2 separate regions of the Homo sapiens genome follow, and region 2 is linked to region 1. Evidence: fine-mapped expression QTL. A gene starts in region 1. The other region holds a variant in brackets. All regions are shown on one strand. Distances are between the middles of the regions. Region 1 holds the start of GTF3C5 (general transcription factor IIIC subunit 5). Region 2 has its middle 20 kb from the start of CEL.

Region 1 (2,902 bases):
AGGAGGATCACTTGAGCCCAGGAGTTCGGGGCTGCAGTGAGCCATGATCACACCACTACACTCCAGCCTGGGTGACAGAGGGAGATCGTGTCTTTCAAAAAAAAAAATCACTTCAGAAACGGGGTACCCATACCCAAGGGGTCACTTGCTCTTACTAATTTCTAGCTGTAATGCAAGTGGCATGATCATAGCTCACTGCAGCCTCCAACTCCAGGGCTCAAAGGATCCTCCTGCCTCAGCCTTTTGAGTAGTTGGGACTACTGTGGCATGCACCACCATGGCCGGCTAATTTTGTATTTTTTGGTAGAAATGGGGTCTTCCCCTGTTGCCCAGGCTGGCCTCCAACTGCTGGGCTCAACTGATCCTCCCGCCTCAGCCTCCCAAAGTGCTGGGATTACAGGCGTGAGCCACTGTGCTGGGCCATGATTCTCATCTCCCAATATTCTCAAACCCAGTCCCTTCATCTCTTGACTGGATTATGCAGTCTCGGAGCTGGTTTATCTGAACTCACTTTCTCCCCCTTTGATCTGTTCTCCACACAACAGCCAGAGAGGTCTTTCAAATGCATGAATGGGATCACTGCTCCGCATAAAACCCTTCAAGGGGCCAGGCGCGGTGGCTCACGCCTGTAATCCCAGGACTTGGGGAGGCCGAAGCAGGCGGATCATTTGAGGTCAAGAGTTCAAGACCAGCCTGGCCAACATGGTGAAACCTCGTCTCTACTAAAAATACAAAAATTAACCGGGCATGGTGGCAGGCGCCTGTAATCCCAGCTATTCGGGAGGCTGAGGCACGAGAATAGCTTGAACCCGAGGCGGAGGTTGCAGTGAGCCGAGAAAGCGCCACTGCATTCTAGCCTGGGCGACACAGCGAGATTCCTTCTCAAAAAAAGAAACCTTCAGGGGCTCTCCACGGCACTGGGAAGCAGCCAGCCCGACGGGTGGACCCTTTTCGTGGGTGCGGGTCTCTGACCTCGGTCGGCCTCGGACCTCATCTCCTCCCTGTTTGAGGGGCCACACTCCTCGCTCCGGGGCTTTGCAGCAGCCCTGGGCGCCTACCGGACAGACGCCGTTCTCCCCGCCTGGGTCTTGAGTAGGGCCCAGCACACAGTAGGCGCTTAATGTCTGCCTGCCTAACAGACGAACGCCGGATGCCCGCGTTCGGCCCCGAGCCGGCGCTTCGGGGCTTTCTGTGGAGGCGGGGCGATGGTTACAGCACAGTTCCCCCGCGCTCGCCTTTTCCACATCCACCTCCGCGAGGCCCCCCGCAAGCGCCGTTGGAAACCTAGTCCCGAGGGGGCTGCAAGAGCTTGGGAGAAGAAGCGCCAACACCGACAGAATACCAGGCCGACCCAATGCGGAAATCAATTCTCAGCCGGGACCTTTTCCCCACCAAGCAGGCGGGCCGGAAGTCTGCCTCTGGCCCGCCCCCGAGGTGTCATTGGGTGGAATACCCAGAAGAGGGCTGGGACGTGGTTAACTCTAGTTCTTTATTGGTTAAAACGTACGAAGCTGGAGGAGAAGGTGGGACCTAGCTTCCTCCGGACTTCTCATTGGCTCAAAAAAAAACTCGCTCGGCCCTCGGATTCTCATTGGCTGAAGTCGAGGGAGGTTTGTGTCTTATTATCCTCCGGGTCCCTCGCTGGCTAGTAGGAGAGACTGGTGCTTGCCCCGCCCGGTGGACTAACTCGCTTAATTTTAAATAAAAAGTCGAGGACACGGCGGTCGTTTTCCCGAAGACATGGGCCCTCCCATGGGCCATTTGCTCCCTGGAGGCCCTCGCGTCTTGCTGAGCCCGGGGAGTTAGGATGACGCGAGCGGTGAGGGAGCCCGGAACGATTCCTTCGCGGAACAATTGAGGCGAGGCCTTTGGGAGTACTTTGTGGGACGGACCCTGGCGGGCCCTGCCAGACGCACAGGGATGGCGGCGGAGGCGGCCGATTTGGGGCTGGGGGCCGCCGTCCCCGTGGAGCTGAGGCGGGAGCGACGCATGGTGTGCGTGGAGTACCCGGGAGTGGTGCGTGATGTGGCTAAGATGCTGCCGACTCTGGGCGGCGAGGAAGGCGTCTCCCGGGTAAGGGGCTGGGAATCTCGGTGTTGGAATAAGAGCTCGGAGTCGCAAAGAAAACGAGCACTCAAAGGATTTCTCAGCAAGGGAAATTTAGCAAATTTACTTACGCAGAAGGGTGCTGCTCGCTCTTCTGGCCGCTGCAAGAGAGCCAACAGAACAAAGAAGGGAAGGATTTTTGTTTTTGTTTTTGTTTTTTTGTTGGTTTTTCAGGCGGAGTTTCGCTCTTGTTTCCCAGGCTGGTGTGCGGTGGTGCGATTTTGGCTCACTGCAACCTCCGCCTCCAGGGTTCAAGCGATTCTCCTGCCTCAGCCTCCAGAGTAGCTGGGATTACAGGCGCATGCCACCACGCCCGGCTAAATTTGTATTTTTTAGTAGAGAGGGGGTTTCACCATGTTGGTCAGGCTTGTTGGAAATAAATTTTGGGTGCCGCAAAGAAGAATCAGCACTCTGGCAAACAGTTTTCTCAGCAAGGCAAATTTCCTTCTATAGAAGGGTGCATCTTGCGGATGGAGCAATGGCGAGAGCACACCGACAAGGAAGGGGAAGGGGTTCCTATCTCTTACACAGCTAGTCTCTACTGCTGTGTCTTTCCCATATTGGCTAGGGTTGGACCGCACAGTCTAAGCTAATTCCGATTGGTTATTTCAAAGAGGGCAGGGGCACAGGCCTGAGTGGCGGGGTGAGTAGTTTTGGTGGGAAGGATGGTTACAGAGCAGGTGACTCAGGATGACTAAGGACAGAGCAGGTGATAGAAGCTAGGAAGGGGTTGTTTACTGAAACTAGGGGCAAGGAGGCGTAAAGAACGAGGGGTTAAACTTTAAAATGGAGAACA
Region 2 (2,902 bases), 51 kb after region 1:
GCTCCTAAAGTCCTCGTGTTTGTCCCTGTCCTAAATTTTCCTGGTGCATGACGACAAACCCCGGGTATGTAGACCAGACAATGTAGCCGCTTCAAGGGATTTGAGTGAGGAAGGAATGAATCAATGGAGCCCAGGGGGGTTTTAGAGCATTCAAACTATTCAGGATGATACTATGGGGACCAAGGGAGAGCTTTCCCCTTCTCCCTCTGAAGGACCACTGAAAAATCACTGACAGATTGTCTCATAGGAGAAAAGCATACATATTTGTTTAATGCGTATACACGGGAGCCTTTGAAATGGAGACCCAACTTCTCAACAGAGTACAGAGCTTAGATACCATCTTGAGGTTCCACAAAGAATGTGGGCTCAGAGCATGGCCAAAACTAGGTTAGGGGCTGGGCGCAGTGGCTCACAACTGTCATCCCAGCACTTTGGGAGGCTGAGGCGGGCAGATCACTTGAGCTCAGGAGTTCGAGACCAGCCTGGCCAACATGGCGAAACTCCCTCTCTACTAAAAATACAAAAATTAGCCGGGTGTGATGGCGGGCGCCTGTAATCCCAGCTACTTGAGAGGCTAAAGCAGGAGGATCCCTTGAGCCCAGGAGTTCAAGACTGCAGTGAGCTGTTATTGTGCCACTGCCCTCTAGCCTGGGTGATAGTGAGACCCTGTCTCAAAACAAACAAAAAAACCCCTAAATCTGTGGACTCTGGGTGATTATGACATGTCAATGTAGGTTCATAAAGTATAACAGCTGTACCCCCTGGTGGGGGATGTTGATAATGGGGGAGACTGGGTTGGGGCGAGGACATACGGGAAATCTCTGTAACCTTCTTCTAATTTTGCTGTGAACCTAAATCTGCTCTAAAAATGTATATATATAAAAAGTGGGGCCTTCCTTTCCCTCTCCCCTGCCCCAGCCCTCTCCCCCACCTCCTTCCTCTCCCTGCTGCCTCCCCTCTGCCCTCCCCTTTCCTCCTTAGCCACTGTAAATGACACTGCAGTGAATATCCTGGAGCACAAAGGGCATGTCTCCCAGTTCAGAATTACCTCCTTTATTTAGGGCAGGTTCTCAGAACTAGAGTAGCCGGGCAAAGGTCTGAGGCAAATGCCTTTGCCCTGGGGCGCCCCAGCCACCTGCAGGCCCCTTATTTCCTGTGGCCGAGCTCCTCCTCCCACCCTCCAGTCCTTTCCCCAGCCTCCCTCGCCCACTAGGCCTCCTGAATTGCTGGCACCGGCTGTGGTCGACAGACAGAGGGACAGACGTGGCTCTGCAGGTCCACTCGGTCCCTGGCACCGGCCGCAGGGGTGGCAGAACGGGAGTGTGGTTGGTGTGGGAAGCACAGGCCCCAGTGTCTCCTGGGGGACTGTTGGGTGGGAAGGCTCTGGCTGCCCTCACCCTGTTCCCATCACTGCAGAGGGCTGTGCGGTGGCTGGAGCTGCCACCGAGCGTCTCGGTGAGGGTGACCTCACACTGGCTGAGCTTACAGGCCCCATCT[G/T]AAGACTTTGTTCGTGGTGTTCTTTCACTTCTCAGAGCCTTTCCTGGCTCCAGGATTAATACCTGTTCACAGAAAATACGAGTGGCCTCCTCTTCCTCCACAACCTCACAGGACCTTCTCCCTTCCCTCCCGCTGGCCTCCTTTTCTCTCCTGTCACTCTGCCTGGGCATGCCCCAGGGCCTTGGCTGTGTCCTTTCTTTCCTCAGGGAAGACCACAAGTTTGGGCTAGATGCCTCCGCACCCCCCCACCCACACCCCCTGAGCCTCTAGTCCTCCCTCCCAGGATGCATCAGGCTGGATGGTGACATCTCCCCACCCTTGAATGAGACGGCTTTGTGCTGCTCTGGGACCCGCACCCAGCTTGGACTGCTTGCTCCATGGCCCCAGGAAAAGCTCGTACAGATAAGGTCAGCCACTTGGGTGGGGGGCCCACAGCATGTCACCCTCTCTGTCCCAGAAGTCACGTGCTTGGTCCCCTGTGAAGCCCCTCTGGGGACCTAGGGGACAGGCAGGGCATGGAGACAAAGTATGCCCTTTTCTCTGACAGTGACACCAAGCCCTGTGAACAAACCAGAAGGCAGGGCACTGTGCACCCTGCCCGGCCCCACCATCCCCCTTACCACCCGCCACCTTGCCACCTGCCTCTGCTCCCAGGTAAGTGGTAACCTGCACAGGTGCACTGTGGGTTTGGGGAAAACTGGATCTCCCTGCACCTGAGGGTGTAGAGGGGAGGGAGTGCCTGAGAGCTCATGAACAAGCATGTGACCTTGGATCCAGCTCCATAAATACCCGAGGCCCAGAGGGAGGGCCACCCAGAGGCTGATGCTCACCATGGGGCGCCTGCAACTGGTTGTGTTGGGCCTCACCTGCTGCTGGGCAGTGGCGAGTGCCGCGAAGGTAAGAGCCCAGCAGAGGGGCAGGTCCTGCTGCTCTCTCGCTCAATCAGATCTGGAAACTTCGGGCCAGGCTGAGAAAGAGCCCAGCACAGCCCCGCAGCAGATCCCGGGCACTCACGCTCATTTCTATGGGGACAGGTGCCAGGTAGAACGCAGGATGCCCAATTCCATTTGAATTTCAGATAAACTGCCAAGAACTGCTGTGTAAGTATGTCCCATGCAATATTTGAAACAAATTTCTATGGGCCGGGCGCAGTGGCTCACACCTGCAATCCCACCAGTTTGGGAGGCCGAGGTGGGTGGATCACTTGAGGTCAGGAGTTGGAGACCAGCCTGGCCAACATGGTGAAACCCCGTCTCTACTAAAAATACAAATATTAATCGGGCGTGGTGGTGGGTGCCTGTAATCCCAGCTACTCGGGAGGCTGAGGCAGGAGAACCGCTTGAAGCTGGGAGGTGGAGATTGCGGTGAGCTGAGATCACGCTACTGCACTCCAGCCTGGGTGACA

The links. PIP is the estimated chance that this variant, and not a neighbour inherited with it, causes the effect. A credible set is the group of variants that fine-mapping cannot tell apart.
Region 2: its variant is the best candidate, but not a certain one, in a credible set for the expression of GTF3C5 in cerebellum (GTEx, PIP 0.63).

The regions. Positions count from the first base shown.
Region 1 is chr9:133,029,092-133,031,993 of GRCh38, forward strand. It overlaps GTF3C5 (general transcription factor IIIC subunit 5), which reads left to right and starts at 1,906. Exons shown (of 11, transcript NM_012087.4): 1 at 1,906-2,073. The coding sequence starts at 1,921. LOC105376306 (a long non-coding RNA gene) reads right to left here and starts at 1,331. Exons shown (of 2, transcript NR_135119.1): 1 at 1,059-1,331. RefSeq lists enhancers at 1,087-1,336, 1,571-2,222, 1,667-1,926.
Region 2 is chr9:133,080,233-133,083,134 of GRCh38, forward strand. It overlaps the pseudogene CELP. Among named protein-coding and RNA genes, the nearest start is that of CEL, 20 kb to the left of the region's middle. The variant G/T (reference allele first, on the strand shown) is at 1,498.